5 separate regions of the Homo sapiens genome follow, and regions 2, 3, 4 and 5 are each linked to region 1. The links come from fine-mapping of genetic effects on gene expression. A gene starts in region 1. Each other region holds a variant in brackets. All regions are shown on one strand. Distances are between the middles of the regions. Region 1 holds the start of DCT (dopachrome tautomerase). Region 2 has its middle 21 kb from the start of DCT. Region 3 overlaps GPC6 (glypican 6). Region 4 has its middle 13 kb from the start of TRF-GAA1-5. Region 5 holds the start of TRF-GAA1-5 (tRNA-Phe (anticodon GAA) 1-5).

Region 1 (5,105 bases):
TATTTTTAGTAGAGACAGGGTTTCACCATGTTGGCTAGGCTGGTGTTGAACTCCTGACCCGTCTTGGCCTCCCAAAGTGCTTGGCTCCCAAAGGCGTGAGCCACTGCGCTTGGCCAGCACTTTTTCATTGATTGACATAGAAATAATTGTTCTAGAAGTATTTTGGGGTTTTGAACAAAGAAGTTACTGTGTTAGTGTGGTTTTCAATCACGCTAACCACACCAGCAACCTGCTCCTCATTCGTCTAAAACACCATGATAATTTTGAGAGAAGGTCTATAGAAGCAAATGCTTAAAAAACTTAGAAAAGCTGGATAATATATATCCAATATGTTATTGAAATTTTTGTCATGATTAATACCCAGGGCAAAACCAGGACCTAGATATTCTTCTGAATGACAGAATTAAAAATATTACTACAAAATGATTATAAAGCCAGAACTATTTATTTATTTATTTATTTTTTTGAGACAGATCTCACTCTGTCACCCAGGCTGGAGTGCAGTGGTGTGATTTCTGCTCACTGCAACCTCTGCCTCCTGGGTTCAAGAGATTCTCCTGTCTCAGCCCCCAGAGTAGCTGGGATTACAGGTGCCTGCCACCACACCCAGATAATTTTTGTATTTTTAGTAGAGACAAGGTTTCACCATGTTGGCCAGGCTGGTCTCAAACTCCTGACCTCAAAGTGACCCACCCACTTCAGCCTTCCAAAGTGCTGGGATTACAGGCGTGAGCCACTGCACCAGGCCTAAAGCCAGAACTCTTAATGTGAAAAAAGAAATCTAATGTCTGGGCACTCATGGACATAAAGATGGCAACAATAGGCACTGGGGACTGCTAGAGAGGGGAGGGAGGGAGGGGTCAAAGGTTGAAAAACTACCCACTGGGTGCTTCGCACACTACCTGGGTGACAGGATCAATCATATCTCAAACCCTAGCACTGTGCAATATATCTATGTCACAAACCTGCACTTGTATCCCCAGGATCTAAAATAAAGTTGAAAGTTAAAATTAAAAAAAAAAATCGAATGTCATTCCTACACCAACATCACAGGCCTTTGTATGTTCCCTTAGTAATACCTATTCAACCCCTTATGAAGCTCAATGACCTATATCCTCCTATGTTCCAGCATCCTATGAGAAGAGAAGTAAAAAGTATTTTTAAAAGGAAAAAGTCTTCTGCAACCACCCAGCCTACAACAGTGTCCAAGGGCTTTCCTGAGGTTGCCACTTGTGTTTTTTGTATTTCAGTGGCCCCCTGCCAGGCTTTGAGTGTTTATTCCCGAAGGGCATATGGCTGCTGGAAACTGGAGGTGGGAAAGATTGAAGAGGATTTGAAAAAGCCCCAAAGAGCTAGAGGAATGAGAAATGCACAGAGATGTCAAAGCAACAGGTAATGAGAGAGACCAGAGTCTAAAGGAAGGACACTGAGCAAATTTTGTGATGTCCGGTTCAAGTCCAGAGAAGAGTGACAAAAAGCCATTGTTATCTAATAACAACCCCCCGCCCGCCCCCCCCACCCCCAGCTCCTCGAGAAAGCTCTGTCTTGCCACGTCTCGACAATTTTGTCAAAGTTACAACCTGGTCATAAGCTTTAATGAGAAACATGCACCCTGCTGAGGTCAGGAGTTCGGGACCAGCTTGGCCAACATGGTGAAACCCCGTCTCGAAATACAAAAATTAGCCAGGCATGATGGCGGGTGCCTGTAATCCCAGCTACTTGGGAGGCTGAGGCAGGAGAATCACTTGAACCCGGGAGATGGAGGTTGCAGTGAGCTGAGATAGCACCATTGCACTCCAGCCACGGTGACAAAGCGAGACTCCATCTCCAAAAAAAAGAGAGAGAGAGAGATCTGTTCAAATCATGAGAAATGCTGAGACCAGAACACCTGCCTTTGACTCCTGTCTTCCGAATGCCAAGCTTCACCCATCCCTTTTCAACAAGTGCAAACCCATTTCAGGAGAGGGCACCGAATCCATCTTGAAAGGACTTGCTCCGAGTTTCAAAGCTGACGCTTTTAAGCTCTTAAATTCCCCTTCCAACAAACAAGCCAATAGTATGTTGGCATGCATTCATATAAGCAGGCTTGGCCCACGCCATATTTATTTAGTCTTCATAACTAGATGTACTAGAGGGTGTGAAGAATAAACCAGCACATCAGCCTTATTGAATATGCTTCCGACCAAAACCATCATTGGTTTGCCTTTCAAAGCCTAATCTAAGAGTCTCTGTCAAGAGTCTCATCTCTTCCTTAGAAGGAGCTCTTTCCCCAGCTCTGGCCCTCCCCACCAAGCTTGGAGCATGGGCCTCACCTGTGCACTTGCAGGTCCGGTGGAAGAATTTTCTTGGCCACAGCTCACGGTCATCCTGGTTTCGTAGGATGTAGGGACCACTCCAGGGCCTTGTGTCGGCTCGCACCTCTGTGCACTGCCCCCGGCCTTGCTGAGAGCCACAGACATTGGCCGACTCTGCACCCAGGCGTGGGCAGCACTCCTTGTTCACTAGGCTGTCCACCGTCATGCAGACTCGGGGGAACTGACCCTGGGCTCCTGGCAGGATTTTGCAGCCCAAGCAACTGAGCAGAAACCCCCACCAAAGGGGGCTCATGGCTTTATAATTGGGAGAGCTCTCTCTCTCTCTTACTTTCCTTGTCTCTGTCGTACTTTTCTCCTTATCTTCTACTCTTTCAGTCTTTTCTTTTCAGTATTTTTTATTTTTCTTTGCTTTCTATTCCTTTCTTCTTAAAAAAATACCCACAAGAATCACAGAGGTTACATGTGTGCACATGTGTACATGAACGTGCACACACAATTTTATGTGATTCAAACAACTAACAGACTTAATTTCCTTAGAAGCGCCTCTAACAACCAAATTTAATGAGGGTAGCGCTTCTCACCATCTTCCCCCGTTAAGTCAGGCTTTGTCTAATTGAGTTAATTTACAGAGCACCCAGTCATACTACTTATTATGCTGGTATTTCTAAACCCTCTCCCTCCCTCCTTAGCTCTTGACTTTAATTGCCTTGAACTCAGTTCAAAAGCCAAACACCGTGCTGCTTTTATTCTCTCTGGCTTGCCAAGCCACGGGGCCTTGGGGGCTTGTGTAAGGGCTGGGAGAAGCCTTCATTAGGGGGATTAGTATTACAGAAACCCTCATCATTAGCACATGACCCAAAGTGCACAATAAAGGAGATCACTTCTGGCTTTATTTCAGGAGGGCAAAACCATCTTCTTTATCTGGGCTCATGTGCTCCAGCCAAACTTGTGACCTCAGACATCCTGGGGAGTCAGTAGATGCAGTGAGCTCTTCGTCAAAGACCCTTTACACAGAAGCTCACATTGCCAACTACAATGCACTCATGGCTGCTTTCTGACATGTGTGCAAAAAAGACCACAACAGGGGGTCATGCAACTTCAAAAATAAAGAAACATTTATGTAGAACCAGGGTACAAGGAATTGCTTTGTTCCACAATTGGGAATCCTCTTCCCTCCAAATAATAACTTACTCTTCTCCTATTCAGCACATCTACGCAGCAATTTTTTTTTAATTACATGAAGTAGCATGCCACCAGAAACTCACAATTGTCATTATCTGATTGTATGGAAGGCACTGGAACCATTTGGAATGAAGGCTTGCAAGCAAATCTTTTTGATTAGACTAAAGTGAAGCATGACTGAGCTTCAGTCTAGAAAGCAATGCCTCCTGGTGCTTCTGGAGAATGGTCAGGTCAGCAATGGTGGCCACCTGTCAGAACATCCATTTATTTTTTCACAGTGGAAACAGGACTGTCTTGGTAACTGTTTCACAGTGGAAACAGGACTTAGTGCCACAAGGATGCGAAACGGCTTCAGCTAGTTTCTAAGAATATACTTGAATGTAAAGACACATATTGTTATGTTTCAAAGCAAATTCCTAAGGTGAAACAATTATATAGGTATTCCCACCCCCTGTACCTCTGTGCCACCCCTTGATGTTAAGTTGTTGTGACTAATTAAATGGCAATTCTTATGTCTGACTCTACACCAATATCAGCCTGTACCACAGCCCTACTGAATCAGAATCTCTGAGGATGTTCCAGACACCAACCAACCTTTGTTAGAAAACATCTAGGCAATTCTAATGCTCAGCCAGAGTTGAGAATCACTGAATCAGAATACAGCAGAGCTCCAAAGGAAATATTGCATCAGCATCAGCTAAAAGAGACCATGTGCAATAGTTTCCTGAGGCTTCTGTAACAAATGACCACAAACTGGATGACTGAAAACAACAGAAATCTATTTTCTCACTGTTCTGAAGGCCAGAAGTCTAAAATGAAGGTGTTGGCAGGACTGGCGTGTGTCAGCCAGGCGGCTGCACTCTCCCTGGAGACTCTAGGCTAGAATCCTCCTTGCCTTTTCAAGCTTCTGGCAGCTGCTGTCAATCCTTGGCTTGAAACCGCAGCTCCAATGTCTGCCACAGCCCCATGGCCTTCTCCCCATCTGTCTGTGTTTTTCCTCCATGTCTGTTTCTTATAAGGACACTTATTGGATGTAGAGCCCACTCAGATAATCCAGGATGATCTCATCTCAAGATTCTTCACTCAATTACATCTGCAAAGAAGACTCTTTTTTCCAGACAAAGTCACATTCACAGGTTCTGAGACATGGACATATCTTTTGGGGAAGTCACCATTCAACCTAACACATCATGGGTGGGAAGAAACTTGGGGTTCTAAAATCGCAAAATCTCAGGGGTTTTTGAAACCTTTATTTTGGAGCTCATTCATTCATTCCATGTATATTTATTGACTGCCACTTCATGCCAGCATTGTGACACTTGGGAATTTTATTCCAGGTTTTTGTGAAGCCTTGGGGCTCCATAAATGTTAAGATAAAATTTCTTGGATGTTAAAACTGATGGAGTCAATAATTCTTATGTCAGAATGCCCCAGGTCGAAGTCCTAGGATCTCTTTTCTTTCATTTCCACACTTGCTAGATAACTCAGCTAGTCTGAGGCCTTAAATGCAGGCTATCATGACTTTCCAAAATTACAACTCTGACTTTGACCTCAGTTGTGAGCCCCAGACTCATATTATCTAACTTCCTACTGGACCTCTCTACTTGA
Region 2 (5,105 bases), 22 kb after region 1:
CCAAGCATAATAAGAGGGACTTTTATAGACTTTCTCCTCAATCCCACAGTTAAAATTGTCAAAGAAGTGAACAAATAAATTAGAGCTGAGCAGAAAATCTTTAGGAGCTGTTATGGACTGAATATTTGCATCCCCTCTCCCTGCTCCAGATTCATACTGATGCCCTAATCCCAATGGGATAGCATTAGGAGGTGGAGCCTTTGGGAAATGATAAGGTCACAAGGGTGGAGCCCTCATGAATGGGGTTAGTGCCCTAATAAGAAAAGGCCAGAGAGAGCTTTCCTCTATAAACCAGGAAGAGGGCCTTCACCAGGAACCTGACCCAGCTAGCACACTAAACTCAACTTCCAGCTTCCAGACAGAACTGTGAGAAATCAACACTTGTTGTTGAAGCCACCCAGTTTACAGTAATTTGTTACAGCAGCCTGAACTATGACAGGAGCTGTGTACATTTGAGAGGTGAAGCCAACTGGACTTCCTGGGTCGAGTGGGGACTTGGAGAACTTTTCTGTCTAGCTAGAGGATTGTAAATGCACCAATCAGTGCTCTGTGTCTAGCTAAAGGATTGTAAATGTATCAATCAGCACTCTGTAAAAACACACCAATCATTGCTCTATGTCTAGCTAAAGGATTGTAAATGCACCAGTCAGCACTCTGTAAAAACACACCAATCATTGCTCTGTGTCCAGCTAAAGGATTGTAAATGCGCCAGTCAGCACTCTGTAAAATGGACCAATCAGCACTCTGTAAAATGGACCAATCAGCAGGAAGTGGGTGGGGCCAAATAAGGGAATAAAAGCTGGCCACCCCAGCCAGCAGTGGCACCCCATTCGGGTCCCCTTCCACACTGTGGAAGCTTTGTTCTTTCGCTTTTCACAATAAATCTTGCTGTTGCTCACTCTTTGGGTCCAAACCACCTGTAAGAGCTGTAACACTGGCTGCAGAGGTCTGCAGCTTCATTCTTGAAGTCAGCGAGACCACAAACCCACCAGAAGGAAGAAACTCCAGACACACCATCTTTAAGAGCTGTAACACTCACCGTGAAGGTCTGCGGCTTCATTTTTGAAGGCAGTGAGACCAAGAACCCACCAGAAGGAACCAATTCCAGACACACATTTAGCTTCCTGATTAAAACTTGGCATAAATATTTAGCATAAAGAAGACTAAAAGCATAAAGATATATGCTCCCATTCCCAAAGCAATAAAAGGACCAAAGGAGTGTGCATGAGAGTGAGTGTGTGTGTGTGTGTGCGTTCTCTCCAAAGCACCAAGCAGTGGCTGTTGATGGCAGTATAAAAGAATAATTTTCTCTTCAGGATGTTCAAAAGCAAACCTGGCAGCATGAATTAGATGGCCTAATTTTAAACATACAAAACACCTCTAGTTCTTAATGAACAAATAAGCAAAGTGCACCATCGGTGGCCTAGACACCATTTCAGTTTTACACTGGAATCAATAAGTTAGGAATGATTTGACTCCCAGAGCTAGCCTCAAGTCCAAGCCATGGAGAATATTAAACTGACCTCCCCTCATGACTCTGGCCAACCCTGTGTTCCAGCCCTTCACTCTCTCCATAGGAGAGGGCTGAACCCCCACCATGCTCTAACCGAAAGCACAGCTGGCCTTCCCTCTTCTCCTCAGCTTTATTGAGGTTATAACTGACAAACAAATATTGTATATATTTAAGGCATACAATAGGAAGTTTTAATATACCTATATGTTGTGAAATGATAATCAAGCTAATTAACATATCCATAACATATAGTTACCTTTTTTGTGTGTGAGAGAACAATTAAGATCTATTCTTTGGGCAAATTTCAAGTATACAATAGAGTATAGTTAAGTATAGTCACCGGGCTATACACTAGATCTCCAGAGCTTATTCATCCTACACATCTGAAGCTTTTACCCTTTCATCAACATCTCCCCATTTCCCTCACTTCCCATCCCTGACAACAACCTGTATTAGTCTGTTCTCATGCTGCCAACAAAGACATAGCCGAGACTGGGTAATTTATAAAGAAAAAGAGGTTTAATGGACTCACAGTTCCACGTGGCTGGGGAGGCCTCACAATCATGGCAGCAGGCAAGAGAGAAAATGAGAGCCAACAACAGGGGGAGCCCCTTAGAAAATCATCAAATCTCGTGAGACTTATTCACTACCATGAAAACAGTATGGGAGAAACCACTCCCATGATTCAATTATCTCCCACCTGGTCCCTCCCACAACATGTGGGAATTATGGGAGCTATAATTCAAAATGAGATTTGGGTGGGGATACAACCAAACCATATCACTACCATTCTGCTCTCTGCTTCTAAGAGTTTGATGTTTTTAGAACCCATATATAAGTGAGATCATGCAGATTTTGTCTGTCTATGCCTGGCTTATCTCACTTAGCATAATGTCATCCAGAGTCATCCATCCTGTTGCAAATGACAGAATCTCCTTGCTTTTAAGGATGAATAATATCCCATTGTGTACCACATTTTCTTTGTCCATTCAACCGTTTATGGACACTTAGCTTGTTTCCTTTTCTTGGCTATTAGAATAATGCTGCAGTAAACATTGCTCTTCACTTTGTAAATATATTTTCATTTTAAAAAATCATTCAGATAGGCAAACGGAACAAAAGCAGAATAGCACAATGCACCACTCTGTGACAACCCCATTAACATTTG[G/A]TGACGATCCTTCCAGACTTTTCTACCACTGCCATCCTCACACAGTGATTTTTAGTTTCTTTTTTTTCTAAATAATTGTTCTTTTATAGATTTTAAAAGAATTTGGCACTTTGGGAGGCTGAGGCGGGCAGATCACGAGGTCAGCAGATAGAGACCATCCTGGCTAACATGGTGAAACCCCATCTCTACTAAAAATACAAAAAAAAATTAGCTGGGCGTGGTGGCGGGCACCTGCAGTCCCAGCTACTCAGGAGGCTGAGGCAGGAGAATGGCGTGAACCCGGGAGGCGGAGCTTGCAGTGAACGGAGATCGCACCACTGCACTCCAGCCTGGGTGACAGAGCAAGACTCCGTCTCAAATAAATAAATAAATTAATTAATTAAAAATAAATAAAAGAATTTGGAAATGTTCATCTCTCTGAGCATTTATTTTCATTGTTTATAAAAAGTGGATGGTGTTCATAATACCTCTCTCTGATCAGGCTGTCGGAAAAATTAAAGAAGTTAGTGCCTCTAGTACATAAAAAGTAAGTTGTCCTTTCTAGTCACCATCTGTTCCTCCTTTCTACTTTCCTTCCTTTTTGACTTATTCCTTGAACAAATGTTTATTAAGCACCTACTGTATGCCTGGCCCTGCACTAGGCACCAGGCTCACAAGGATGGGGAAGAAGACAGCCATGGATCTTGCAGTCACGGTACTTATGCAGAGACAAAGACAGAGACAGAGAGAGAGAGAGAGAGAAAGGAGAGAGAGGAGAGAGAGAGAATGAGAACAGGCTTGCAGAAACTCCTGGCAAGACCACCAAACCTGCGAGAGTGAGGGAGGGTGTCCCAAGCAGAGGGCACAGCATTACAAAAGCCAAATCATCACAATGTGGCGCACTAGGTGCAAGAAGGGAAGAGTTCATGAGGGACAAGGCTGCAGATTGAGCAGAGACCATGTCAGGAAAGTCCTCATGTTTCAGCTTAAGGAAGCTGAAGGCAGCCCAAAGTTCGCTATCTTGTAGGTATTATTGTCTCCCTCACTCTGCCCTTGCTGGGTCTCCCACTGTTTCCATAGCCTCAGCCCCTACTTCTGAGGCTCTGCTGAGGGTGCCTTCACTGTTCCATAGCCCCAGCCCCCACTTCTGAGGCTCTGCTGAGGGTGCCTTCACTGTTCCATAGCCCCAGCCCCTACTTCTGAGGCTCTGCTGAGGGTGCCTTCACTGTTCCATAGCCCCAGCCCCCACTTCTGAGGCTCTGCTGAGGGTGCCTTCACTGTTCCATAGCCCCAGCCCCTACTTCTGAGGCTCTGCTGAGGGTGCCTTCACTGTTCCATAGCCCCAGCCCCCACTTCTGAGGCTCTGCTGAGGGTGCCTTCACTGTTCCATAGCCCTCCCTGCTGTCCCCCTCATCCCATGAATTTTGCCCCTTTCTCTCACCATCATGTTCTTCTGTTGCCTCTGCCATTTCCAGTTGATTCTGTGGTGGGGAAGGACACGGACCTTCCTCCAGCAGGTATTGCCATAGTTCTCGGCTTACTTTCCCTGCCAGACTCTTTGGGAGAGTGGCCTGAGCTCCCAGCCTCCACCTGCTCTTTTTCCATTTAATCCTTAACTATTGCACCTGCGTTCAGTCATCAGCCCTCAACACTCAGCTGCGAGGAGCTGGTGAACTTGTGATTACACCCAGCAGGCATCTGGCCAGTCCTTCGCTTGCTTGGCCTCTTTGTAGCTTTCTGACCCCCTCCTCTCCTTTCTTGGTTCACCCCTTTCCCTCAGCTTCTAGGTACCTCATTCTCCTTGTGTCCTCCTTTTTTTCTTCATTTTCCTCAGTCATCTTTATAAATCTTTCTCGTCTACTAGCCCTTCAACGTGTGGCTGTCCTTTCCTCTCCTCGCTGCACTCTCTCCGAAATCTGTATCTCCAGACCACATCTGCTCATGCAGACAAATCCTCTGACTTCCAGCCACTGTGAGCCTGCCACCCCAGGTCCCCACCTTTCTGTGACTCAGTGAGGCTTCCCAAGTCAGGCTCATTGCAAGGAAAACCTGGTTTAACTAGTAAAGAGGTGGGTTATAAAATATTGTTAGAAACACCGTGGTGGTTTAAATAATGTCTGCCAAAATGATGTGCTCGAGACCTAAGCCCTGGGACCTGTGAATGTCACTTTATTTGGAAATAAAGTCTTTGAAAATACAGTTAGGTTGGGTGCGGTGGCTCATGCCTATAATCCCAGCACTTTGGGAGGCCAAGGGGGCATGGATTGCTTGAGTCCAGGAGTTCAACGCCAGCCTGGGAAACATAGCAAAAACCCCATCTCTACTAAAAATACAAAAAATTAGCTGGGCATGGTGGTGCATGCCTGTAGTCCCAGCTACTCAGGAAGCTGAGGTAGGAGGATTGCCTGAGCCTGGGAGGTCGAGGCTGCAGTGAGCCAAGATCAC
Region 3 (5,105 bases), 330 kb before region 1:
GATGGTCTCGATCTCTTGACCTCATGATCCGCCTGCCTCGGCCTCCCAAAGTGCTGGGATTACAGACGTGAGCCACCATGCCCAGCCAGATGGCTGGCTACCTTTTAATGAAAAAAAAAAAGATATATAAAAACAACAAAATATAATTAATATTTCTCATTAGTTTATTTTCAAGATTAGGTGAGATTGTCTCCCTTTGTAGTACTTTGTAGGAAGTTTAGCTGTGTTATTTTTCGTTGGACTTTTTATTACCAGCAAAAAGAGAAATGGTTTAGTGTGAGAGAATCATTCATAGGTTTTATTTCAGTTTTAATTCAGACTTATTTGAAGGTTTTGACAGAGAGTATTTCTATATAGGCAGTGTTATCTTTCCAAAGTATTTGATTTCTAGAATCTAGATTTTTAATATGATAGTCAAAAATCATATTAAATTTTTTGTCACTCTTTAGAATCATGACATTCTTCTCAGATACCTGATTATTAACTTTGTATTATGAAATCAGAAAATGCAGAAAGATGCCATTTATGTGGTTCCCATTCCAGCCTGAAAGAGAGTATAAAGGGATAGCAGCTGGGCACAGTGGCTCATGCCTATAATCCCTGCACTTTGGAGGCCAAGGTGGGTGGATCGTTTGAGCCCACAAGTTTGAAATGAGACTGGGCAACATGGCAAAACCCCATCTTTACAAAAAAATACAAAAATTAGCCAGGCGTGCACCTGTAGTCCCAGCTACCTGGGAGGCTAAGATGGGAGAATTGCTTGAGCAATTCTGAGCCTGGGAAGTCCAGGCTGCAGTTAGCCATGATCACTCCACTACACTCCAGCCTGGGTGACAGTGAGATCTTCTCAAAAATTAATAAATAAATAAAATTATAGCAATTGAAAGTAAGGCTAACTTGATCTGGACATCAGCGATTGTCACGTGGTTTCAACACATTATAGCTTTATAGGCGCATATTTTGTTTTCACTGAAGCGAAGTTGTTAAACGTTTGATTTTGTCCTAATGGTGAAAAGAAGACGTTTCCTGAAGGAGACAGGATTGCATTATCATTACAAAAGTATCCAGCCTCTGTCGCACACTCTTTTTTAATAGCGCTGTTGTCCTATTTGCATATGTAAGAAAAAGACTGAGAGTCACCCAGCAGCAAGCAAGTACCTGTAACCACAGAGGGCAGGGTCTGTAACATCAGGGTTGAAATGGAGACCATATTGTTTTTTAATAAAAGAGTGAACAGTCATTATCTTTTTCCAATTCATGACCCCAAAATATACGCAGTGTGGATTTACTTCCATGAATGGTCCATGATGGCTGCTGTCCATTCGTACAACCTGGCCTCTACTCTTTGCCTCTTAGGTGCTTTTAAAACACACACACACACACACACACACACACACACACACACACCAGAAATGGAACACCCATTTTTCAAGACTAATAATTCCAAGCTTATCTGTTCAGTTCTTAGTTCCTTTGTAGGAAAAGATCATTCTTTGGGAGTGTGTGTGTATGTGTGTGTGTGTGTGTGTGTGTGTGTATAAGACAGAGAGAGAGAGGGATATCTGTGTGCAAACACTAGTTTAACTAAAGGATATACTTTTATTTTACAAAGACTTGTCTAAAATACCTGTTCCTGACATGCAAACAAAAATAGATAATTTGTTCTTTTATTCCTAAATCTATTTAATTTGGTGTAATTCAGAGTGATCTTTGAGGATAGAAAGATAATGCCCAACTGAAGTTAATATTCTTACTGCCTGGAATAAGAATAAAGAATTTTAGCAGTTCTTAAAATATGGAGCAGAGCATTAGAATACCTGCTTTTATGAAAAATTTTATACATTTAAATTTATATAATGAAAATCTTTAGGAACCAGGCCCTAGTTAAACAGGGGAATCAAATATTTATATTACTAAAGTTATTAACAAAACTTTGGAGACCTTATTGCTTATGGGCAAAAGCACAGAGTTTGAAATATTGATTAGAGAGTAAGTTCTTTAGGAGTCCTAGATTTTATTTTTTCTTGCTTACTGCCTAGAGCAATGCCTAGCACCTAGCAAACACTCAACAAATATTTATTAAATGACTGGATGGATGGGTGGATGGATGGATGGATGGATGGATGGATGGATGGACGGATGATGAATGGATGGATGGATAAAATATATTAAAATCTATACTTGGCCATTTACCTAACATTCTATATAAAGCACCTTCTACATGGTAAGACTCATTATTGCATTTGTTGTCATTATTTTTTACATTAGTATAATGTTTTGACTTTATTGAAACTTATCAATTTAGGGTCAAATTATATCCTTATCCATTAGGCCTTTTCCAATAGGCCAATGGTAAAGTGTCCAAATAATTTTATTTTAGAATAAGTAGGAATGTCAGCAGTCATATAGCCTAGCTACTTCAATATATTGATATTTGTTTGGGAATTAAAAACCAAAGAGATTAACTGATTTGCTTAAAGTCTCATATGTGTACCCCCAGAATCTAAAATAAAAGTTGAAAAAGAAAAAAAATGGTAGCATGAGAAGTGTAAGCTTTGTATATATGAGAAGTTATGTCCAGATGATTCTACATTAAGTAACTTACTCATTAATTCAGTAAACTGTTATGACGTGTTCCCATAAATGTGTGAACTTTTCCAAGTATGGGGGAATTCAAAGATGAGCGGACCCTAAGCTCTAGGAGATACTGATTAAAGGAGTCATACTTATAAATAAGTGAATATGTAATTTAACAGAAGGGAACATGTGTTATGGTGAATGTATAAACAAAAGGTTGAGTGAACATGAAGCATGAAGCAACTAACCCAATCTGGAGGTTTGGGTAGAGAAAATCAGTATTAAGCTGCAACTGGACAGGTGACAGGAGGATCAAATGGACTTCTCTGTGTCTGCAATGAAAGAAGTCTGAGCTAAGATTTTATTTAGAACTTATTAAATGCTCATAAAAGGATCAGATGAATAATTTAAATGAGCAAGTAACCAATGACATTCATTCAAAACTGC[G/A]TAAACTTATGCAAGAATGCATGTTTTCTGATATTTCTGCTTTGTGGAAGCTCGCAGTGTGATCCATAATCATGTCACATGCTATTTTCACCTTTGATACTGTGAGATCCTTGAAGGTGGAGTCTTCATGTTATCCACCTTTGTATCCTGAACACTCAGCAGGGTGCCTGGTGCATTGTAGATGTGCAATATATGTTGTTCTGAATTGACTTACACCCACCAACCACTATATTAAAAATAGAAAATAAAAGAAAAAAAAACAAGTTGTGTGACTTCCTCTAGACACAGTTGTAATTTACTATCTAGGACAGTCTCACCAATCAAGTATTTATCTCCAGACCTTGAGAAGATAATTTACCTTCAACAATTATTATTAATACCTTTTACCAACTTGGGACTATGGCAAAATTGAACTTATGAAAAATGCCTGTCTTTTTTCATCCTTGGACCAATTATAGCGTTCAAAAACAATCTTTTTCAGGTTTCCAGATAGCAGTGTTTTTCAAATCTCAGGTTGCAAACATTGAATCATTTTATCAATAATGTGCAAGATAGAGACATGTCCAAGGTTACTGAACCAGGATCATAAATCAACTCCTTGATGACATACCTCACAAGATTTAAAAAGAGAGATCATATAACACTTTGCAGATGGAAAGTCCCATACCAGTTGTTGTATATCAAAAGTGATACCAAAAGGCAATTTCTTAGAAATATATTAATTATGTGATTGACCAGATCCGAAAGCATTTAGATAACTTGGGGATAAAATGAGCGTTGATAATTATTTTAACATTACATTCTAGCAATGCATGTTTGAATTTGCTGAATAAAGAAATAGGTTTATATATTTCCACTGTTAACAGAAAAGCAATAAAATACTGCAAGGGAATTTTTCATTTGTTCTTGAAATCTGCTTCTAATGTTCATTTCACTCCCACTAAAGGCAGGTTATTACCTTGGATTTCCTAAAATCAGTGTATGCTTTAAAAGTGAATATTGAGAATTGTGGGTACTACTAAATTTAAAATACAGAATGACCAATGCCAGATGACCCTGACTAAAATAAACTAGAAAATTGAAGTGATTATAAAGATCATTTGCAGGTCAAAAAATAATTTCCCCCTCTTAGCCTCTTAAGTCCTTCATTTTCCTATCTCCTGATTCTGTCTTTCCTATCTCAACTCTCCTTATTTTCTTAATTCTTTGCACATAGAAAGATTTTGCTTTTCCTGTCACCTCTGTTAGATGCATATACGGGTACTCCAAACACCTTGCTTGATAATTTCAGCTTGGCATCATCATTACAGGATGTTAGGCTCTATAGCCTGGGTCAAATCTCAGGGCTACCACTCACTAGCTGAATGAGCTTTAGCAAGTTATCTCAATGCTCTAAGCCTCCATTTTCTCATAAATAAAGTATGAGTTGTAGCATTGTTTTGAAGGTTGAGTAAGATGATGCATATACCATGCTTACCAAACTTAAAATAAGCATAAACTGTTGTTGTTATCATGATTAACCAATGCCTCTTCCTTCTGGTTTAGTGTAAAAAGTGTGGCACACTGAACTGACACTGGACCAAAGATCAGATCACTTACCCTGAGGCCCTGGCTCTGTGACCCTGGGCAAGTCATTTATTCCAGAACTCTGGTTGTCTCATCTGTAAGCTGGGAGGCATAGACAACACTACATTAAAGAGCCCTTCCACATGTGTTCTAAGTGAATACATGCTCCACATTTTTACTCATAACATTCTTGTAGATCACTGGAATTGTACTCATTTATCATAAAAGTTATATAAGATATAGGAAAAAAAGTGGACCCATGAAACCTGGTCATGTGGTCAGAGCCAAAGAGAATCCAGTTTGATGTAAAGTTATTTTACTCAAGTACTCTGTGGCAGGGATTCTGCTGAGGTAGAGTATTTGAGCAGAGCACCTTGAGACCAATGTCACAGAAAATATTCCAGCAAATAATTAATGGTGTGTGTATATATATTGCCAGCTACCCTGCTGGAGCCCAGCAATCTCTCAGAGGAGATTAGTGGTCCTTACCCATGTGTCCAACCATTTCAATACTT
Region 4 (5,105 bases), 58 kb after region 1:
GCTGATGACTTCATTGTATTAAGTTTTGCCAAGGCATTCAACTTAATTTTCTTAGACCACCAATTATTTCTTTGTCTTTTGCTTTTCACATTCATATAGTAATAAGTACAACTGGCACAAACAGGTGTGGGAACAAGAGCAGCTTTTGGCCAAGCATACAAGTCAACTACTGGGAGCAGAAGCCTGCTGGGATACTAGAGAGTGGCCATAGGCTTTCAGTGGACCCTGATCATAAGTCAGTTTGTTTGAAAGAAAAAATGGAAAGCACAGGCTAAATCAAGTTTCTGCTCTACTGCCATCGGCTGCCCTGGGCAGGGAGTGAGATCTTCAAAGAGCAATCTGAAGCAATATCTGAAAGTTACTAAAGTACCTTCTAGGGAGGGTGGGTCTAGCTAACTTAAACACTCTTGTTTGAATGCAGGAGGAAAATTTGAAGGCAAAAGATAATTTCCCCAACATCACAGCTGAGAGTTGCTATTAGCCGTAACATCCATCTTTCCCCAATGCCATCCAAATAAATGTGGTTTGTTTGTTTTAGAGACAAGGTCTTGCTAAGTTGCCCAGGCTGGTCTCAAACTCCTGGGTTCAAATTATCCTCCCACTTCAGCCTCCCAAATATCTGGGATTACAGGCAAGTGCCACTGCACCTGGCCCAAATGAATGTTGAGTAAATATTCTGCAAACATCACTTGAAGGGACTGCAGCCCACTTGATTAGGCTGTCTGGAATGTTCAAATATCTGGCCTTACTTGAGAAATTTGTTTTTAGCTTGTTAATATATACAATTTAGAACATATACTATATACCTGTTTTCATGCAGACTATTTTATATGTCCACATGTCCTCAGTTGTATGTATCACAGAGTTTCACGGTATATGGCATGTTTGACTAAATGATGGAAGAGGTTCAAGACTAGTCACCTGCATGAGTTGATTGCAAAGGAACGTTTGGCCTTTGGCTAAATAAGGAGGAAGCATTATTGCTGTAAGTATCAGGGCAATAATATGGAGAAATGACATGGAAATAGTATCTGTCACTCCACCCAGCCCAGTGGAATGAGGCTCTGCCAGAAACTGAAGGATAGTTTTCATATAAATCTGTCAGATAAGGATGCTTCAAGAGCTACCAGCAGCTCTCCTATGCAGATATGCAGAGCACAATACTCAGCACCCCTGTAAGCATTAATGTAGGCAGTGCCTGGAACTATAGCAGAACCCATGAGGCCAAGCAAGAAATGAGGGAAGCTAGTGGACCAGAGGTCCAATTGTGATGCTAGCAGTCTGAGATTTATTTGTGAAAATACATGCAACATTCCTGGGCAGGTGCAAATGGGCATCTTTCTAATTGCAGAGGTCGTCAATAAATAGTTGGAGCAAAGACAGAAAATTCTGAGCTATGGCCAGTACTGTGATTTCGCCTATACCCTCAGATTGGTAGGGCACAGTGAATCACAAAAAAACACTATTAATATATTGGTGCTTGTAAATGGCGTAGCCCCTCCCAGGTTTCCCTCTTCGAGGAAGAATGTCTCCTGCCACCCGTAGAGGCTCTATGGTTAACTAAAGTCAATCTAGCTCCTCATCAGCATCTTAAAGAGGTGTTCACAGGAAATAGCCTAACCCCTAATACCACAGAAAAGTTTGCTAGTGCTTCCAAATGATCTCAAGAACTAGCTCAGAAGCCAGTAAATGACAAAATCTTTCCAGATTTAGAAAAATTTAGCCTTTTATTTAAGGTCCAGGAGACAAAAGGTTGTGTTCAGAAATGTGGCTGCAACCAGGAGCCAATGGTCGATACAGTTTAGGACCAGGGTTGATAGATCCGACCCTCAAGGATGCCATGTACCAAAAGGCCTGGACCTGATGATTTAACATTGACATTGGACAGAGTAATGTTCTGGGAGCAGCCAGGGCCTGTGATGCCTCCAAGAAGCTGCTCTTCAAAGGGGACCTCCCAAACATGCCTGCTAAAGACCAACCCAGTGTAACCTAGTGATGTAGTCTGGATGTTTGTTCCCTCCAAATCTCATGTTTAAATGTGATCCCCAGTGTTGGAGGTGGGGCCTGGTGGGAGGTGTTTGGGTCTTGGGGTGGATCCCTCATGAATGGGTTGGTGCCCTCCCCATGGTCATGATTTAATATTCAGTCTATGAGTTTTCACATGAGAGCTGGTTGTTAAAAAGGGTCTGGTACCTCCTCTCTCTTGCTCCCTCTCCCGCTATGTGACACATCTGCCTCTGTGTCACCCTCTGCCATGAATAAAAGCTTCCTGGCTGGGCACGGTGGCTCACGCTTGTAATCCCAGCACTTTGGGAGGCCGAGATGGGTAGATCACCTGAGGCCAGGAGTTCGAGACCAGCCTGGCCAACATGGTGAAACCCCTTCTCTATTAAAAATACAAAAATTAGCGGAGGTGTAGTGGTGGGAGCTTGTAATCCCAGCTACTCTGAAGACTGAGGCAGGAGAATTGCTTGAACCCAGGAGGCAGAGGTTGCAGTGAGCCAAGATTGCGCCACTGCACTCCAACCTGGGCAA[CAGAG/C]AGAGACTCCACCTCAAAAGCAAAAACAAAAAAGCTTCCTGACACTTCACCAGAAGCTGAGCAGGTGTGGGTGCCATGTTTGCCCAGCCTGCAGAACCATGAACCAAATAAATCTATTTTCTTTATAAATTTCCCAGTGTCACGTGTTCCTTTATAGCAATGCAAAACAAGCTAACACACCTGGTAACCCTGTAAGAATAATTGAATTGGTAATTGGCGGATCAAGTAAAATGTTTCCATTATTAGGACATGTATCTATTTGTGCCAGACTGTTAGTTTCTTTAAATTTCTCTGAACACAAAATCTTTAGTTCTCAATCTCAGTTACATCTGAAAGGTTTCCCAAATCTCATTTCTCTAGAAAGTTCTTCAAACCTTCCATTTAAAAATAGCAGTCAGAACATCTAGTAACTTGAAAGATGGGGAGAATGCTGTTGTTGCTAAGACATTTTTTGAATGTCAACCATGTAATGTGTGACTATGATCCTGGTTCATAGGATTACAACCTAAATTAACCCAAGTTAGTGTCCTGGCAGATGGCCGTTCCTAAACTGCCTAAACTTGTCTCTGTCTCTGTTAGATTAAGACAATCCCATGATCTTTTTGAAGTACTAACAAAGACTTACAGCTTCCTGCTCTCCTGTGCTGCCATGTTGAAGAAGATGTAGAGCCTTTTTTATTGCTTTCTACAAATTATGCAAGTGAGAAAAAAAAACAAATAAAAACGAAAACACTGAAAATCATCCATAACCTTAAATTAACCATACAACCTTTTTAGTCCTGAAATAGTTGCTTACTGTTAAGTCAATAGATGTAAACAAGCAATTCTTGAGAACCTAAAATGTTTCTGGCACTTGGCTAGGTGACATAAGATGTGGAAAAGGAATAAGAACGTCAGTGTAGGCTCTCAGAAGAGTTGATTCTCATGTTAGGAAATATAATAAAAACAAGTACAGCCAAGGATTATGATGCAGTGGTGACCCACCATTGGCAGGATGAAAAAAGAGGAGAAGTACTCTTACTCATTCAACAAAAATGCATTGAGCACCTACTATGAGTTTTCTGCTAGTCATGTGAATCCTGACCTTAAGGAGATAATAGCAGCCAGTCAGAAAATCAGACCAATAAAATACACAACCAGAAGATGATATCCAGGTTATTGTGTGGATAAGGTATAGGGAGTACAGGATGGAAGAAACAGCTAAGTTTTCTCGGGCAGCCAAGATGAGATGTTGCGGAAAGTGACTCCTGAAAGAAGGGTGGAGCTTGTAGAGAGTGCTTACTGAGCCTGCAGGACCTGCCTGACTACATGCCAAGCACTCTTCATGGATTATCTTATTTAATTCTCACACTAGCCCTATAAAATAAGGATTTTTATTTTTCTCCATTTTACAGACAGGGAGACTGAAACAAAGAAGAGTTACGGAACTTCTGGATATTACACAGGCAGGGGGTGAGCCTGGAGCTCTGGCCCAGGCAGCCTGCCTCCAGAGGCTGTGCTTCCCACCACCCCTCCCCGCCAAGCCATATGTATACACATAGCCCCAATACCTTGGTATTAGCCTTCTCCCCTGCCTCCTTTTATACCACATCTCCCCCTCTTCTTCATCTATTGTAGTGAGAAAAGCAGATGGACTTGGTGCATTATCCGTCTTTGCTACAATGTAAGAATTCAAGGGTATAAACCATAGACCGTTGTGTTGAGCCCTGAACTTGGATTTTTCAGCCAGGTTCGTTCAGGTTATGGGCTGTCCACTGCCCATCACAAATACAACTGAGACCTCAGATTGAAAAAGAATGAAGTTGCATTCAGTCTCTCTTGTTGCAGTTTCTCTCTTTACCTGGGATGAAGATCATTTTCAGAAGCTTCCCCATCCTAACATGTTAGATAAACTGTCTAAGCTACTCAGCTGCTTCTCCTCCCTCACTCTTAGGATTTGTCTGTTTCTATCTGTGCGGTTTGGCTCTCCCTGTTGTCCTTACCCTTTTCCTTTTGTTCTAAGAGCCCAGCACTACTCTAGCTTCTAGGGGTTATCAGCCCACACCCCTCCAGCTATTCCAGGTCACACAACATCTTTCAGTCCCGACCACCACCAGGCGACACATTAACACCTGCATTTCCAAAGAACTCCAATAGACTTTTTATGACTTTTCACAAAATTCTTAGTCCCCTGCTTTGTTACTAGAACATGAAAATTCTTCCTGAAATCAAACCCACCTTTTGAGGGGCAGTAGAATTTTGCTATGAGGAAGAAAGCACACATTCAACACAGAGAATGAAAGTTGGGACAGGATCACATGCCCAGAGCATAGCAGACGGCAAGCTCTCAGGATGGTCAGAGTGGGAAGAGCTGGATATTAGCTTAAACTATGGAAAACTTTTCATGAAGAGGAAAAACCTGAGAGAACTTGAAAGGTAAGTAGGAATTAAGGTGACGCTAAAGGAATAAGATATGAAATAAACAGGCATCTGAGTGCATTTCTCTATGAGCAATTTACCAACCTATTATTAGAAAATGCTTAAAAGAGGAATGTTTCTTCTGTGTTACTGTACACCTGGATTTCAT
Region 5 (5,105 bases), 69 kb after region 1:
TAACCTGCCCAGGAAACCAGCCCCTTATCTACAATAAACAGTCCAGCAAGCCCGTCTGCTAAAGCCAGACTTGCAAGAAGTCTGGGAAATAACAATCTGAGAAGCTAAACAATAACTTTTATAATAATTAATTCCAAATGACCAGGAATTGATTAATAACTGACAGCTTTCCTAGTTTTTGTCCTCATTTCCAACTTTAGGCCAACCACAAAAGGCGCCTTAAATAATCACATGGCTGCCGGCTCCCAGTTAGCTAACTCCAGCTTCCCAGACCAACAGCCTCCAATCAGGGCACACCTGAAGCTGTCCCTTGTGTCTGCTGTAAAGCTCTCCCACTCCCCTGCCTGCCTTTGAGTCTCTCCCAAATGCCAGTGATGGTGGCTGACTCCCTCGCTATAGCAAGCTCTGAATAAACAGCCTTTGCTTTCTCACATGGTGGTCTTCCTTCATTTCATATATATAAGCGGTGTGTGTATTTTTTTAATGCTGCCCACCTGCTTCCCGATCACTCCTCCCTGTCACAAGACCTGAAAAGCCTTCTCAACCAACAGGTGGAGGCCTGGCCTAACTCTTCCCCTTCACCCTCCCCTCCTCACACTTCTAATGACACAGATTTTCTCCTTGACCAAATGCTAGCCAGGCCTCTCTGAGCCCCCTTCTAGACCAGGCCTCAACCCCCTCAGAGTGCCTGCTTGAGAAAGCCCAAGACTGACAAAAGAATTCTATGCACCATCTGATGAAAGGCTTCTGGCACTTTCTTAGAGTACTTACTAAAAAGGGCTTACAATTGTGACTCCTTCCTCTGTGCCTTTGAGATGGCTGTGTATCTCCTACAAAGGCAATCAAGGACGTAAAAAACCATTCCTTTACAATGTAATCATCAGGAAGGATAGGGCCAGTGTCTCCCAGTCTCTGGAAGGACAGAATCCAGACTTTGATCATTGCCAGCTAGCAGACACAGCTGCCTAATCAGCATTTACATGCGTCAATCCTTTGTCAGTTTTCACCTTCCTGACTCTGCTGAAGCCCCACTGGTTCCTCTCCGTTAATCCCTCATTGTCCCTTAAAATGCCCAGTCACCTCTGTACAAATCAAAGTTCAGTTCACGCTGGACCCTCTTCCCTATTGCAATAGTACATTATGATTACCATCTGTCCTTACCACGTTACCTAGTGTCTGGTTTATCTTTGGTACTAACCAGGTGTGCGCCTCCATCCTTCCCCCACCCACACCAATAGCCAGTAGCTGGTCTTCCTGTTACAGTAGGGAGCTAGTCAGGCATGAGCACAGCAGGAGAGCCCCCCTCCCCACCAAGGAATGTCAGGAGACCAACAGGTGGTGGGCAAGTGGTTGTTACACTGTTTCCCTAAAACGGTAATTGGTCGCAGCCAGCCCTAGGGAAAGGCAGGCTCCAAACAGAAAAAACCTGAAACTGGTCATCATCAGTTTCCTGATAAGATCTTAGGAGTTGGGCGAGTAAGCTGAAGCATGCGCACTAAGAGGCAAAATGGCAGCATTTAACTGGTACATGACCTTCTAGGAACATTCAGCTGGTAAAGGAAGAATGCCTCAAGTGAGCATGGGTACAACGCCAGTAAACACACTGTGCATGCTTCCCTCCCAAGCACTAGCAGGCCACTGTGCATGCGACAGCCCACCCCAAGGGAAGAACTAGGGAAGAAGGGATGCAAGACCCCAGAAATGCCAGTGTATAAAACCCTAAGTCAGAGGTCAAACAGGGCTCTTGATCTCTCAATTTGCCCGCTTAGCCCTCTTCCAAGTGTACTTTACTTCCTTTCATTCCTGCTTCTAAACTTTTTTTTTTTAAGAGACAGTCTCACTCTGTTGCCCAGGCTGGAGCGCAGTGGCATAATCTCAGCTCACTGCAACTTCCACCTCCCCTGTTCAACGGATTCTCCTGCCTCAGCCTCCCGAGTAGCTGGGATTACAGGCTTGTACCACCACGCCCAGCTCATTTTTGTATTTTTAGTAGAGATG[G/C]GGTTTCACCATGTTGGCCAGGCTGGTCTCAAACTTCTGACCTCAAGTGATCCGCCCACCTCGGCCTGCCAAAGTGCTGGGATTACAGGCATGAGCCACCGTGCCTGACCCTGCTCTAAACTTTTTAAAAACTTTCACTCCCGCTGTAAAACTTGTGTTCATCTCTCACTCTGCCTTATGCCCTTCAGTCGAATTCTTTCTTCTGAGGAGGCAAGAATTGAGGTTGCTGCAGACCCGCATAGATTCACCATCACTAACATTACCTTGGGCAGAGTGCTCAGACCTCAGGTTGTCTGAAATGAAAGTCACTATCACCCCAGAACCTGCATCCTTTCCCTACTCTTTAGAAATGTGATAGCTGGTGGCACTCCTGTTAAATCTTTCCATACCTAAGAAATCTTGGCTGGGCACACTAGCTCATGCCTGTAATCCCAGCACTTTGGGAGGCCAAGGCGGGTGGATTACTTGAGGTCAGAAGTTCAAGACCAGCCTGGCCAACATAGCAAAAACCCATCTCTACAAAAAATGCAGAAATTAGCCGGGCATGGTGGCGGGTGCCTGTAATCCCAGCAACTCGAGAGGCTGAGGCAGGACACTCCCTTGAACCTGGGACACCACTGCACTCCAGCCTGGGCGTCAGAGTGAAACTCCGTCTCAAAAAAAAAAAAAAAAAAAAAAATATATATATATATATATATCTTCTCTGGGTGAGGACCCACTGCTCCATAGAGCCTTTTCTGGTGAGCCAGACAAAAACTTTTATTTCCCTCATACAAGTACCTGTATGTTTATGCACACCTGTCTTGACTACACATCTCAACAGCTTTTCACTTACAGTAACATTTAGGAGGTAGCAATGTTAGCTGTCTAACAGACATAGCTTATGCTTAATTCTTGCAACCCTGGAAAGGCTGTTATGTATAAAATGGGGATAATAATATGTACTTCATAAGGTTGTTATGAAGAGCAAATAATGCTGGCTCGTAGTGGGAGGTTAGGAATTAATGTCCAATTAGAGAATGAATGAATAAGAGAGAACACACAGTAGTTCATAAATATGAGTTTCCCTTCCCCCTCAAAACAGCAGAACCAGAAAACAAGCAAGACCTAAGCATACATCTCACAATGGTCCTTCATCTGCTGTCCAGCAACCCGCCACCTCACTAAACTGACTATTCTATTTTCCTACGACACAAATAGATAGATATTTCTTATTTTTAAAATTTAGATCTACATCCCTGCAACTTCTCCCCTTGGGTCCTGGCTCAGTTCCCACCAGCCATACAAGATAACATCAGGTGCCTGGGCCTCCATTTTCTTTCTAGGACACCCAGTTTGGCCTTGGGGTGGGCTCCCACAGGTAGCTGGGAAGCTGATGCCCCTGAGTACCCACGTCCACCCACACGTGAAAACAAAAAAAAATCTCAGAAAGTAATTTCGAGCACGGGTCAAAGTTCTATTTCACACTTGCAGGGGCAAGACAGCAAAAGGAAAAAGCTGGTTCACAGCAACTGTCTTAGGAAAGCAAGGCCTCTTTTAGAAACAGAAAGGAACGTCTAGACCCGTGGCTTGTTTAAACACCCGCTGCTAGGCCCCACTGCCAGAGCTGCCTATCCAGGGCCGAGAATGTGCATTTCTAAGTAGTTCTCAGGCGGTGCTGATGCTGCGGATCTGGGGACTGTACTTTGAGAACCACCGGTGCAGACCCTGGCCAACGTTCTTTAGTCTGATGCGTCGGGGAGCTGTAAAGCTGCCATCCTTCACCGGTGGGCAAGTAACCTGGTGGCGCCACCCCAGGGCCAGACCCAGGGCCGGCCTCGGTGCGCCTCTAGCCAGAAATAACCAGCACTGGGTTCCGCTCACCGGCAACGCCAGGTGGGGGCCATCTGACCACTCAACAGTTTTGCTTTTTCTTCAAATTCGGATACTTAGAAGGAATGCGATGAAATTGGGATGAAGGTGTTTTGCTGGCCCCGTGGACAGACCAGACCTCCTCCCATCGGAGCCTCGGGTCTCACACCAGCCCCCCAGGCGGCGCGCGGCCCCGTCTCGCCACCGCGGCCCGGGTCGTTCGCGTCTTCCGGCGCCGAGGGTGCCTCTGGGTCCCAGCACCAGGCTCCGTGGCGCGCACGCGCGGCAGCTTCTTCTAGCCCCGCCAGGAGACGGCCCAGAAGGGCTATGCGGCGCGGCCTCGCTCCTGGGGGTGGTTAGGAACGACTGTTTCATTTCCTCCTTCACCCTTCAAATCTCAGTTTTTGCTTGGGCTTGAAGGAATGGGCCAGGGTATCGTGGACGGAGAGTCTTACAAAATTTGAGTTTTTGAGGTCAGAATTTAAAAGTAGCTGCCGAAACCCGGGATCGAACCAGGGACCTTTAGATCTTCAGTCTAACGCTCTCCCAACTGAGCTATTTCGGCACGTTCTGGGTTGTCTCCTGAGTAAACTATCACTGAGCGCTTTGCGTCCAACTGGCTTGCTTGTCTTTTCCTGGTGATCATGTACAGCATTTCTTCCTTGTCCTGTTAAACGGTGTCGTCGGAATTCTTCCACCTCCCTCCTTCTACGCTGCCACTGGGCGCTGCACACGCGCCTTACTTTCTTAGATTGCTCTCGGCGCGCGCAGCCCGCACGGTCCAGGAGCTGGGTCCAGGCCCCCGATGGCGGCTCCTCGGGATGCTGGTTCCGTCCTCCCAGGGCCGGTCCCCGCGAGATCCGAAGCAGCGGGGTCGCCTCGGGGAGCTCCTGCCCAGGCCTGGTAGCCCCTTCCCTTCGATCTGCCCCTGCCTGTGACTATCCACATTCGTCACCTTGCTCCCCGAAAAGTTCCAGGCCCCAGGTGAGGAGCCGTGTAGGCCCAATACGATTGGATGAAGGAGTGTACGGGGCAGGAATCGTCAGACTGGCCTCTGGAGAGGAGTTTGCAGCCTCTCCGTGCTCCGGGCCCGGGAAATGTCCACCTTAATCATCACCTCTTTGCATGGAGCCTGACTGGCAAATAAATGCTGGGTGAGCTCACTAACGATGATTATTCAGTCAATGCTATTTCCCACACGAGTCAACAAATGTTTCCGAAGCACCCACTACGTGCCAGGCTCATTCTTTACTTCC

Evidence for each region. PIP is the estimated chance that this variant, and not a neighbour inherited with it, causes the effect.
Region 2: its variant is the best candidate, but not a certain one, in a credible set for the expression of DCT in T cells (TOPMed, PIP 0.63).
Region 3: its variant is the best candidate, but not a certain one, in a credible set for the expression of DCT in cerebellum (GTEx, PIP 0.55).
Region 4: its variant is the best candidate, but not a certain one, in a credible set for the expression of DCT in tibial nerve (GTEx, PIP 0.60).
Region 5: its variant is the best candidate, but not a certain one, in a credible set for the expression of DCT in thyroid (GTEx, PIP 0.86).

Annotation. Positions count from the first base shown.
Region 1 is chr13:94,476,649-94,481,753 of GRCh38, forward strand. It overlaps DCT (dopachrome tautomerase), which reads right to left and starts at 3,034. Exons shown (of 8, transcript NM_001922.5): 1 at 2,313-3,034. The coding sequence starts at 2,607.
Region 2 is chr13:94,498,232-94,503,336 of GRCh38, forward strand. It overlaps a transcript of DCT not described here. Among named protein-coding and RNA genes, the nearest start is that of DCT, 21 kb to the left of the region's middle. The variant G/A (reference allele first, on the strand shown) is at 2,682.
Region 3 is chr13:94,143,038-94,148,142 of GRCh38, forward strand. The region is part of intron 4 of GPC6 (glypican 6); the gene reads left to right. Among named protein-coding and RNA genes, the nearest start is that of GPC6-AS1, 42 kb to the right of the region's middle. RefSeq lists an enhancer at 508-1,441. The variant G/A (reference allele first, on the strand shown) is at 3,025.
Region 4 is chr13:94,534,390-94,539,494 of GRCh38, forward strand. It overlaps a transcript of DCT not described here. Among named protein-coding and RNA genes, the nearest start is that of TRF-GAA1-5, 13 kb to the right of the region's middle. The variant CAGAG/C (reference allele first, on the strand shown) is at 2,536.
Region 5 is chr13:94,545,309-94,550,413 of GRCh38, forward strand. TRF-GAA1-5 (tRNA-Phe (anticodon GAA) 1-5) reads right to left here and starts at 4,414; the gene lies at 4,342-4,414. LOC124903191 (a long non-coding RNA gene) reads left to right here and starts at 3,440. Exons shown (of 2, transcript XR_007063836.1): 1 at 3,440-5,003. It also overlaps a transcript of DCT not described here. RefSeq lists a silencer at 3,973-4,202 and enhancers at 4,735-5,105, 4,773-4,952. The variant G/C (reference allele first, on the strand shown) is at 1,999.